3 linked regions of the Homo sapiens genome follow. The protein of the gene in region 3 interacts with the protein of the main gene of each other region in a biochemical or structural test. Each region holds a gene or a part of one and is shown on either strand. Other genes may lie near its edges.

Evidence for each region.
Region 1: the proteins of SOS1 (region 3) and ABI1 form a complex in vitro, tested with the Homo sapiens proteins (one study listed by BioGRID and IntAct).
Region 2: the proteins of SOS1 (region 3) and HCK interact in a biophysical measurement, tested with the Homo sapiens proteins (one study listed by IntAct).

Annotation. Positions count from the first base shown.
Region 1 is NC_000010.11:26,766,884-26,770,538, forward strand, and holds part of ABI1 (abl interactor 1), read right to left. Parts: intron 3,463-3,655; coding exon 3,362-3,462; intron 2,110-3,361; coding exon 1,969-2,109; intron 1-1,968. UniProt on the Homo sapiens protein: May act in negative regulation of cell growth and transformation by interacting with nonreceptor tyrosine kinases ABL1 and/or ABL2. May play a role in regulation of EGF-induced Erk pathway activation. Involved in cytoskeletal reorganization and EGFR signaling.
Region 2 is NC_000020.11:32,086,672-32,090,326, forward strand, and holds part of HCK (tyrosine-protein kinase HCK), read left to right. Parts: coding exon 1-136; intron 137-1,896; coding exon 1,897-1,973; intron 1,974-3,655. UniProt on the Homo sapiens protein: Non-receptor tyrosine-protein kinase found in hematopoietic cells that transmits signals from cell surface receptors and plays an important role in the regulation of innate immune responses, including neutrophil, monocyte, macrophage and mast cell functions, phagocytosis, cell survival and proliferation, cell adhesion and migration.
Region 3 is NC_000002.12:38,985,014-38,988,668, forward strand, and holds part of SOS1 (son of sevenless homolog 1), read right to left. Parts: intron 2,579-3,655; coding exon 2,460-2,578; intron 1,303-2,459; coding exon 811-1,302; 3' UTR 351-810; coding exon of another isoform or gene 297-350; 3' UTR 1-296.

The sequences.
Region 1 (3,655 bases), on a different chromosome or scaffold from region 3:
AATAAAGTTTTACTGGAACACAGCCACATTCATTTACGTATTGTCAATGGCTGCTTTTGTGCTACAATGACAGATCTGAGTAATTGCATCAGAAACCATATATATGGCCCACGAATCCTAAAATATTGACAATCTGGCCCTTTATAGAAAAAGTTTGCTGATCCCTGTTCTAACAGAATGAGCTCTTGAAAAAAGAACTATGCCCTATTGACAAATGCCTAGTATCTAATGAAACAACACTTAATAACTGCTTGTTGAATATGATTAAACTATGCTTCCACTATAGAGAAAAACTATACTTTGATCCAAGAGTTCAATAACAACAAAGAGAACAATTTTGTTCCTCAAAGAACTTGACCTGATACAGTAACTGCAGATATCAACTTAACAATTTGTTTACTAACAGCACCAATAGTAATAAATACCGCTTACCTAGCATCTCGCATCTTGATATACCCTATTTAGTGGAATTCCCATAAATCATTTTGATAAGTTATCTCTCATTTACCAACCTAAGAGTGAAGGCAAAAGAGAGGTTCCCTGCCCACGTTATTAAGTGAGAGAGAAAACTGAAGAATAAAACAAATTTGGTTATATAATAAATTTATCTGGTTTTATAAAGCACTCAAAAATTGAAGTGGCTATATTTTGGGGGAAGAAGGTCGAGGCGATAACCAGGAAGGAGCATGAGGGGCTTCTGGGTTGCTGGTAATGTTCCATTTTCTGATCTGGGTGATGGTTATATGAGTGTGTGTCCATTCATCAAGCTGTATACTTACTGAAGTGGATACTTTTCTGAATGCTTGTTATGCTCTGTAACTAAATTTTTAAAAACCCACCGGGTAATTGACTTTTAGGACATTTAAAAATAATAAATACAAGGCCAGGAGCGGTGGATCATGCCTGTAATCCCAACACTTTGGGAGGCCGAGGTGGGTGGATCACCTGAGGTCAGGAGTTAGAGACCAGCCTGGGCAACATGGTGAAACCTCATCTCTACTAAAATACAAAAATTAGCCAGGCGTGGTGGCATGCACCTGTAATCCCAGCTACTCTGGAAGCTGAGGCAGGAGAATTGCTTAAGCCTGGGTGGTAGAAGTTGCAGTGAGCCGAGATCGCGTCACTGCACTCCAGCCTGGGTGACAGAGCTAGACTCCATCTCCAAAAAGATAATAATAATATTATTATTATAACAACATATTCTAGTATACTGATTCTCTTAAAAAAATCTCCCTCAGATTTAAGCTTAATCTTCTTTCCTTCAATCTCTGAAAGTTTAAATCACGTTGTATAATTCCTATGATATTTAATCTTTTCTCCAAAAGTATTTGAGTGGTTTGCCTTGAATTTTTTTAAAAGAGCATTTTAAAACATTCTTAGGGCTGGGCACAGTGGCTCACACCTGTAATCCCAGCACTTTGGGAGGCCGAGGCAGGAGGATCACCTGAGGTTGGGAGTTGGAAACCAGCCTGACCAACATGCAGAAACCCCGTCTCAACTCAAAATTAGCCAGGCGTGGTGGCTCAGGCCTGTAATCCCAGCTACTTGGGAGGCTGAGGCAGGAAAATCGCTTGAACCTGGGAGGCAGAGGTTGCAGTGAGCCGAGATCGCACCACTACACTCCAGCCTGGGCAACGAGAGCAAAACTCCGTCACAAAAAAAAAAAGAAAAAAATTCTTTAGTCTTAACCCGTAGAGTCTGATAGAGTCTGTACCTCTATCAAAAGGAGGAAATACAAACAATCCATTAATAGTACAAATAGATGTTTTAAAAAGTTAAAAAAACAAAACAAAACAGAAGTTATAACACAAACTTACAGGAACATATATAATATTATTCCCCCAACTTTTACATTTTATATTAGCATTAGAGTGGCACCTCACCTTTACTCAGCACCTCCATAGGAGTTTGTCGCCAGTCAGTTACACCCACTTTAGAGATGTTGAGATACTCAACCTAAAGGCTTACCTGTGTGTCCTTGGTCTCTGATTTAAAGATGCTGTCCTGCCTGGACTATGCTGACTTCCAAGCCTAGCAGGACTGGTCATATAGTCATTAGGAACTGTTGGGGGTTTAACAGGTTCCAGGGTTTTATAAGGAGTATTCCGTCTAAAGGAGCATAGTGGAGAAAGGAATAATGAATAAAAAAGATAAAATTGTATTTTTCCCAAAAATATGTGAGTCTCCCTTTGTGACCATGTATACCAGGATTTAAAAATATATATGACAAAGTTTGTAATTTTAAAAAATATTCTTCACTGGGATATATGAATTTTGTTACTTTAACATGAAAACTAAAATTTGTTACCTTTTCCTAGGAAAAACATAGGAAAGGGTAATTTAAAGTCCTAACCTTATTTCTAAAAATTATGGTTATAATTTTTTAAATGCTCAATAATAGCAAACTTTAAAATGTACATTTTTCTCAGTACAGTCACCCATAAGCCACTGTTCTTTAAACAGGAAGCTAAATTTATTTACATAGGAAGCTGCAATTTATTCCCATCTCAATATGGCAATAAATGGAGATATACATTCTAATCATTACTTTCTCAATAAATGATTTCGACTATTCTGTTTAATAACTTCATTTTTTTTTTCAGGGGCAGAGGGTTTAATGAATAAAAATGAAAACTAAGACCTTCTTAAAAGAAGACTGATTGTTGAACAACCCCTCTGCCAAAAAATAAGAAATCCAATATAATATTTCCAGTATTAAGAAAAACAACCTTAAAGAAATATAATGCTTTGACAAGTATTCGCTATATTTAGTACACTGAGAACTAGGAAGGAAGAAGCCACTGTTATCTTTTCTACTTGCCCAACTGGCCTTCCCATGGAGCTACTCTAGTGTGAAGAGGCCTAAGATTACCAGCAGAAGCATAGTTACAAGTAAAGTGCATACTTTCCTAAAGTAAAGAGTCCCTAAGTCTCAGACACCAATAGGCGAAACAGAAGAGCTGTGGACTAAGCCATACTACACAAAAGTAGACCACTAGTCAAAGTTCTACAATATAGATACTGTAAACACATGCAAAGGCACCATTTGGAATACTCTAATCATTCCATTTAAAACAAACAAGTCAGATTTATATTTTTTAAAAATTAGATGACAAAAAAATAAATCATGCCATTTATACATACATAAAAACTTTCCTAGTACAGATTATAGAGAATATTACAAAGCTGGCAGATTCATTTGGGATTCTGTTCAGGAAAATAGGAATTAAAATGAATTTGTAAAAGGTAGCGTCACATAGAGAGGGTAGTGTGGCATGGATCCCATACACTTACTTAAGTCACAGAAACATCTTTTCCTTTAGCATATGAATTCTTTTGCAAAATGTAGTTGAATTCTTACCCCAGTGTTCCCCGGCCTGACATGGGAGGACTTGGCGGTTTCTGAGTAGGAGGATTTGTTCTCGACAGTGTGCCAGTTCTTGCAGGCTGGTTATTTCCATGCTAAAATGTAGAAAGAAATGCTTTTATTTTTATATCAAATTGTTCTCCTGGTGTTTTAACACCATGTATTATTTTTTTTAAATATCAGAATGTGAATTAAGGATTCCCAGACAGTTTGAATAAAGACTTTGGTACTACAGTTTAAAAAGTCAAGGAACCACTTGCACTTGGTCTTCCTATTATTTTATGCCAT
Region 2 (3,655 bases), on a different chromosome or scaffold from region 3:
CCAGGGAGCATGTCGGTGGAGGCCTTCCTGGCAGAGGCCAACGTGATGAAAACTCTGCAGCATGACAAGCTGGTCAAACTTCATGCGGTGGTCACCAAGGAGCCCATCTACATCATCACGGAGTTCATGGCCAAAGGTGCTGCGTGCTGGGGCTGGGGGTGCAGGCTGTGGCCTATACTGGTCAATTGCGGGCCCAAGGGTGGCTTGGACATGGTTCTTGCCCTTGAGATGGCCCCAATCTGGCCAGGAGCTCTTCCAACAAGTACTCATTGAGAATCTAATGTGGAACAATCCAGCCCTCCTGGTTAGTGGGGTGAAATCATGTTAAGGGGTCACCAAGGGGAAGGGAGAACAAGGGGCTACCAGGAGAAGGGAATGGGGCCAGAATACTCCTGGGCAATGGGAGAAGGGGCTTATGGTTCACAGTGAGCCTTAGAGGCCAGGGTGTGGCATGGGTGGTGGGGGTGCCACTCTCCCGCATCAGCCACCTTCCCTGTACTTGCCAAAGCCCTGGGAGAGGGAGCTGGCAAAGCAGCAGTTCTGCCCCCACCCCCGCCCTGCCACAACTCAGGATTTCTTGGGGAATTTTTTTAGGCCACTGTTTCACAACCATTTTCAACCCCTGCCATTTTTTGTTTGTTTGTTTTTTAGGGACAGGAACTTGCTCTGTTACTCAGGCTGGAGTGCAGAGGTGCAATCATAACTCCTGGGCTCAAGTGATCCTCCCACCCCAGCCCCCCGAGTGGCTGGGACCACAGGCCCATGCCACCACACTCAGCTAATTTTATTTATTTATTTACATATTTATTTTTAGAGACAGGGTTGCCCTCTGCCTACCCAGGCTGGAGTGCAGTGGCGTGATCATAGTTCACTGTAGCCTCAAACTCTCAGGCTCCAGGATCCTCCCGACTTAGTCTCCCCAGTAGCTGGCACTACAGGCATGCACTACCACACCCAGCTAATTTCTAAAAAAATTTTTTTTTTTTTTGAGACAGAGTCTCACTCTGTTTCCCAGGCTGGAGTGCAGTGGCACAATCTCGGCTCAATGCAAGCTCCACCTACCAGGTTCACGCCATTCTCCTGCCTCAGCCTCCCAAGTAGCTGGGACTACAGGTGCCTGCCACCATGCCTGGCCAATTTTTTTGTATTTTTAGTAGAGACGGTGTTTCACCGTGTTAGCCAGGATGGTCTCAATCTCCTGACCTTGTGATCCGCCCGCCTCAGCCTCCCACCATGCTGGAATTACAGGCGTGAGCAACTGCGCCCAGCTTCTAAAATTTTTTTCTAGAGACAAGGTCTCGCCATCTTGCCCCAGCTGGTCTCAAACTCCTGGGTTCAACTGATCCTCCCAAAGCTTTGGGATTATAGGCATGAACCACTGAGCCTGGCCTAACATATATATTTGTAAATTTCTTCTATAGATGGGGTCTTGCGATGTTGCCCAGGCTGGTCTCAAACTCTTGGCCTCAGGTGATCCTCTCACCTCGGTCTCCTAAAGTGTTGGAATTACAGGAGTGAGCCTCGTGCCTAGCCACTCTGCCCATTTTTTGATAAACAGAATCATCTCATGCAATCCCATTTAGTGCGATTTGAAACCTCAAGCCTTTTTCATTTTAACTATGCAATTATGCCAGTCCTGTGAAGGCATGATCCCAGCCATCCAGGCTCAGGGGCTGTCTCAGTCACAGAATCCATCTAGCAATCAAAAAGTCACTTCACTAAAACTCAATTCTCTTTCTCAAACACTAGGAATTGCAAACAAATATTCGTATTTAAATCTACTACTATGAAAAATCTTCACCACACACTAAAGTACTAGATTGGTGCAAAAGTAATTGTGGTTTTTGCCATTAAATAGTAAAAGTAGTAAATGTTCCTCCCCTCTCCCCCATATAGGAAGCTTGCTGGACTTTCTGAAAAGTGATGAGGGCAGCAAGCAGCCATTGCCAAAACTCATTGACTTCTCAGCCCAGGTGAGAGCCTAACGAGGAAACGGGGAAGGGAAACAGGAATTCGATTTTTTTACTTGCCAAATATTTACTGACCACATACTATGATGATAGCAGTAATAATAATGGGTAAAATGTATTGAGAGCTCAGTATAAAACTATGTTTTTTGCATATATTTTATTATACATGTACTCATTCATTTAATCATCCTATAAGCTTTATAGGCTGGGATTTTTGTTATCTATTTTGGTATAACAAACCATCCAAGTCCTAGTAGCTTGAAACAACAGCAATTGTTATTTCTCATGATCCTGTGGGTTGCCTGGGTTCAGCTGGGTGGTTCTTCTGCTCGTCATGGTAAAGTGAGGTGCAGATGTTGGCACTTGCCCAGGCTAGAATGTCCAAGACATGGCTCAGCCTCCAGGGTCTCTCCACATAGCCCCTCACCACCCAATCACCCAGCCTGAGCTTCTTCACGGCGCAGCAGCTGGGTTCCAAGACAGAGCTGGACCAGGGGCCAAGCCTTCATGAGCAGGCTCTCATTAAGCCTCTGCCTGCATCAGGCTTGCTAATGGCCCATTGGCCAAGTCACATAGCCATGCCCAGAATCAGTGTGGGAGGGGACTGACCAAGGACACAAATCCCAGGGACCCCCTCAATGTAACAGTCTGGCCACAGAGTAGGTAATTATCATCCCATTTTACAGAATAGGAAATTGAAGCATAGAGCAGAAGTAAAGTACAGATGTGGAAACTGAGCCCCAGTGTGGTTAAGTGGCTTGCACAAGTTACTGTGCTAATTATGGGGGATATAGCAGTGAACAAAATGAAAATGTTCCTGTCCTAATAGAGTTCACAATCCAGGTGGGAAGATGAGTATTAAATAACCAAATCTCTTAGAGACCATGACCCAAGTGGTCCTGGCTGAGTCAAAAGAGCACAGTATCTAACAAAGTAAATAATGTTCACAAATCGCAAAAACACTGCTGAAAACCTAATTTTCTTTCTCATGTTCCCCACGCCCCTTGCAGCTCCTCTCACCCCCAGCCTAAGCAGTTTTTTCACTTCTGTCCTCTCTCATGCTCTCTCTGATGTCTGGGAAAACAGAGTGTAAGGACGGGGTGGTATTAGAGTGCATAGCTAGAGCATTTAGCCTGGTCCAGGAGCAATCAGAGAATGCTTCCTGGAGGAAGTGGCCTCTAGGCCGAGCCTGAAGGATGAATAGAAGTTCAGTAGATGAAGAGAAAAGGTAAAGGTCTTTTAGACAAAAGAAACAGCCTGTGCAAAAGTAGGTGAAGGAGTTCAGCCTACTCAGCAGGAGCCCAGGGATAGTGGGAGTTGAGTGAGACCCTGCCTGGGCCTCAGCTGGGCCTGCTGGAGATGCCAAGGGCAGGGCTCATTTGAGTATGCAAATTCAGGGGCCCAGAGGACACCACAAAGTGTAACAAAAGACTCTACTTTCAGAGCCTGGAATGCCAGAGGCATATGGAAATGTGTTTTCACTCCTATGGGCCAGGTCCTCTGGGAGACAATAGACTGGTCTGTTGCTAAATTATCATCTTCAAACTAGCAGAAGCCCTGCTGGGCAGCAGTCACCGACCAGGGCAAGAGCCACTCTGCCCGTTTCACAGAGGGGAAAACAAACCAAGGGAGGAAAAGAGGTTCTGGGCCTTCATCTGTCCAGAAGCAGAGGTAGATTCAGAGCC
Region 3 (3,655 bases):
TAGATGAACAGTCTCCTAAATGCAAATAGAATAGTTGACAGTTATTTTTTTTTAAAAAGTTCTTCTGTCATGTTAATGACACAAAACTTCTCTTTTTTGAAGGCAACACCACCACATTTTGTTTGGGTGTGTGGGGACAGGTGGGGGGAATGCTCTTAAAATTGGTACAATTATTCCTAAAACAACAACAACAACAAAAAAGTACCTCTTTGGTGAAGCCTCGGTACCCATTCAGTTCACCGTAATAATCTGTAAACAGGCCTGTAGTACAGTGCCGGGCCTTGATTTCAACAAGGTCAGGTACCACAGCCTTTCCTCACAGTCCTTTGAGTGATTTTTAAGAAAATATTCTAAAGTAGAAGAGTAAAGCAAAGGAAAACAAAGGAAGATATTAAGATCCCTGTTTAAGTTTTTTTTTTTAAAAGTGCATAATTTGAATTACAAAAACTGTCATGTGGGCCTGCTGGACACTAGACTGTGTTTTCCATCCCTTTAATGATCACTTCACAAAAGATCACTTCACAAAAAGAGGACTCCTGCCTATTGGCCAGAAAAAGTCCCTTTATGATTTTCAGGTGCAATCAGTTGTCCAATTCCTCTAGGTCGGTCTTTCCATATTCTAAACTGGAATACCATTTCCATTGTATAATTACATCTAGGTTAAAATTCATTGTCTTATACTGCATCTTGAAGAAGAGTCGTTAGTGTTTGGAGTTCTCATTTTAACTCCTCAGTGCTGGCACATTCAGTGCATCCATTGCCAGCAATGGATTTGGGGCTAGGAAAATATACATCCCAGTACAGAGGAACTCAGGAAGAATGGGCATTCTCCAACAGTGGTGGTCCATCTCTGTGCATGGATGGGTGTGTGTGCTCCCTTTTGTAAGTTTTTGGAGGGAGTTTAGGGATATGTTGAGAAGTGCTTTGTCGTGGAGGAACAGGCGGCCCAGCAATGGAATGAAGGTCCACTTCTTGTGTCAATGGTGGTGATGGCAGATGCCTTCTTGTGCCGTGAGGAGAAGGTGTTTGAGGAGGAGGTGGTGTAAAGGGGGAAGGGCTGTTTGGGAAGAAGGCATTGCCATGGTCACTTTTTTTGCCCAAAGGGGGAGGTTGGAGATGTAGTGGTGAGCTTGAGAAAACATCAGGTGTCCTCACAGGTTCTCGTGGTGGTAATAAGGGAGGGCTTTCAGGAGGGTCTGAGATAGAGGTCCGGTCTGATATTGAATATCGTGGTGAATAGGCTTTTGATGTGGGTTGCCTAGGAGGAATGGCTGGGGGACTGTCCAAATGCTTAGACATAATCTAACAAATGAAAAGAATAAAATACACATTTATTAATAAATTTATGAAGTATCATGACTATAAGAATTAAGTTGGGGTTTTCAAACATGCTATTGGCAGGATGCTAAGTGTGGAACAGGGAGTTTTGCCATATGTTTTCTTTTTAATTAAAAAAAAATTTTTTTTTTTGAGACAATGCCTTGCTCTATTGCCCAGACTGGAGTGCAGTGGTGCAATCATGGCTCACTGTAGCCTCAACTTCCTGGGCTCAAGTGATCCCCCGACCTCAGCATCCCAAGCAGCAAGGACCACTGGCATGTACCACCATGCCTGGCTAATTTTTTTCATTTTTTGTAGAGTCAAGGTCTTGCTCTGTTGCCAAGGCTGGCATATGTTTTAAATGGGAGGTTCTGTCAATTCATAGAAAAAAAAAGTTTGCCGTAGTTTTTACTTAAATTTTTTTCCTCAAAATTTTGTTTGCTACTGCTTGCTTAGCTTATCACTCAATCTAAGATCATTTCTAATTTAGCATAAAGTACCTATTTTATAATTTTAAGTTAACTATGTTAACATTCATGAAGTTCTACAAAGAGTGTCTTGTCTTGACTTATCCTGGTGCTCTGCACTCTGGACAGCTTAAGAACTAATGAATTAAGTTTAACAGCTGGCCAAAAAGAAAAAAACAAAATTAAATAAGTAGAAATAATAGCTATTTTGAGCCTTTGGGGTCTCTTCCAAACCCAGAATTTTCATGAAAACTCCATTTAAAAGTATGTCAGATTTACTATTAAGGGCTCAGATAAGTAAATTTTAGCATATGTCAAAATACAGTTTGACTTATAATGTGCCTTCATACAAAGCTTCAGGACTTTCTCTGTATGCTTTTAAAGAACTGCTTGAAACCAAATTCCTCTTACTTTACAGATTAAAACTTTTGTTTTTTTCTGAAAATAACCATAGCCTTAGGTTTACAAGGGTCTTGAATGCATACCAAAAAACTACCTTCAGAAGAAAGAAACATTACTGCATGCTAAATCTATATGTAATCCTTGTTTAAACTATTAAGCCTGTATACTCTGAAATGTTAACTTATCCTAGTGAGAACTAAACTAGACAGCCGTTTATTATAATGAACTGTAATGATTCCAATTTCTACACAACAAGATTTCTTACTTTACCTTAGATGGTGAAGATTCTGCTGGGGCAGATTCTGGTCGTCTTCGTGGAGGAACAGGAGGAGGGACAGGCACTTCATCAGTGCCTTTGGTTAAACTTATAGATGATACAGAAGCAGATCCTGTGGGATGTTAAATTTTTAAGAAAAAGTCCACAGGAATTTTATTTCATTTATTTACCTTGAAAAGTCTTAGCTGGAAATTGCTTATAATTAAAAGTAATGTGTAGAAATACCAAAAGCTGTTCAATAAACCAATACCGAATAGTATTTCATTAAAGCAAACTGCCATAAAAGCATGCAGACATTTTTTAGCAGAATATTTAGAAAAAAGCTGCCTAAGGTATTCTGTTATTTTGCCTGAACAAAATAACATTCCCATGGTTACTCTATTATTGAAATTTTTAATTGAGTCTGATTCTCAGATGTCTGGGAGACAGTGAGCTACTGAAAATCTTTGGAATGGTAATTTTTAGATTCTATAATGGGTTCATTTTTTTCTTTGACTTTATTAGAATTTATAGAACTTCCCCACCTTACTGGATAGTCCCTGGGAGTAGAGTGTGTGCTCTTAACCACTCTCTCCAATGTCTCTCCCTAGCATTTCTCTCAAAGGATGCAAGGGAAAGAATCATAGTGTCTAGGTGAGGGGCCTCTCCTCATTTTGTTTAGTTATAGGCTCCCCTTTGCCTGTAAGCAAAAAGAGGCTCATTATACTCTAAATCCAAAAATTTTAACGGTGATGGCACTATTCAAGACAACGGAGGCAGCCCTGACCATGAAAACAGAAATTACACTAAAATCTAGTGAATCTGATTTAAGAATAAGTTGGTGGACTGGCACAAAAAAAGTAAGTAAAGCTACTAATTAGAACCTCTCTTACAGACATTTATGGTAACAAGAACATAAGGTAGGCATATAAATACACTTTGGAAAACAACACTTAAGTTAGTTGTTTATACCTACTATAAAAAAAGATGTGAAAAAAATACTTAAACCATCATTCAAAATTATAGTTGGCAGTTTTTTTTCCCTTTAAGCATTAAGCTTTTTATTTTGTCACATGTTATAAAATATAGAACTTAAAAAGAGTACTTTGTGTACTGATATTATTTAAATGATCAACATTTTGATCACCTACCTTTTTTCTTAAGAATATAGTTAATTCAGCTTGTAACTAGTATTTTCCATTGTACATAT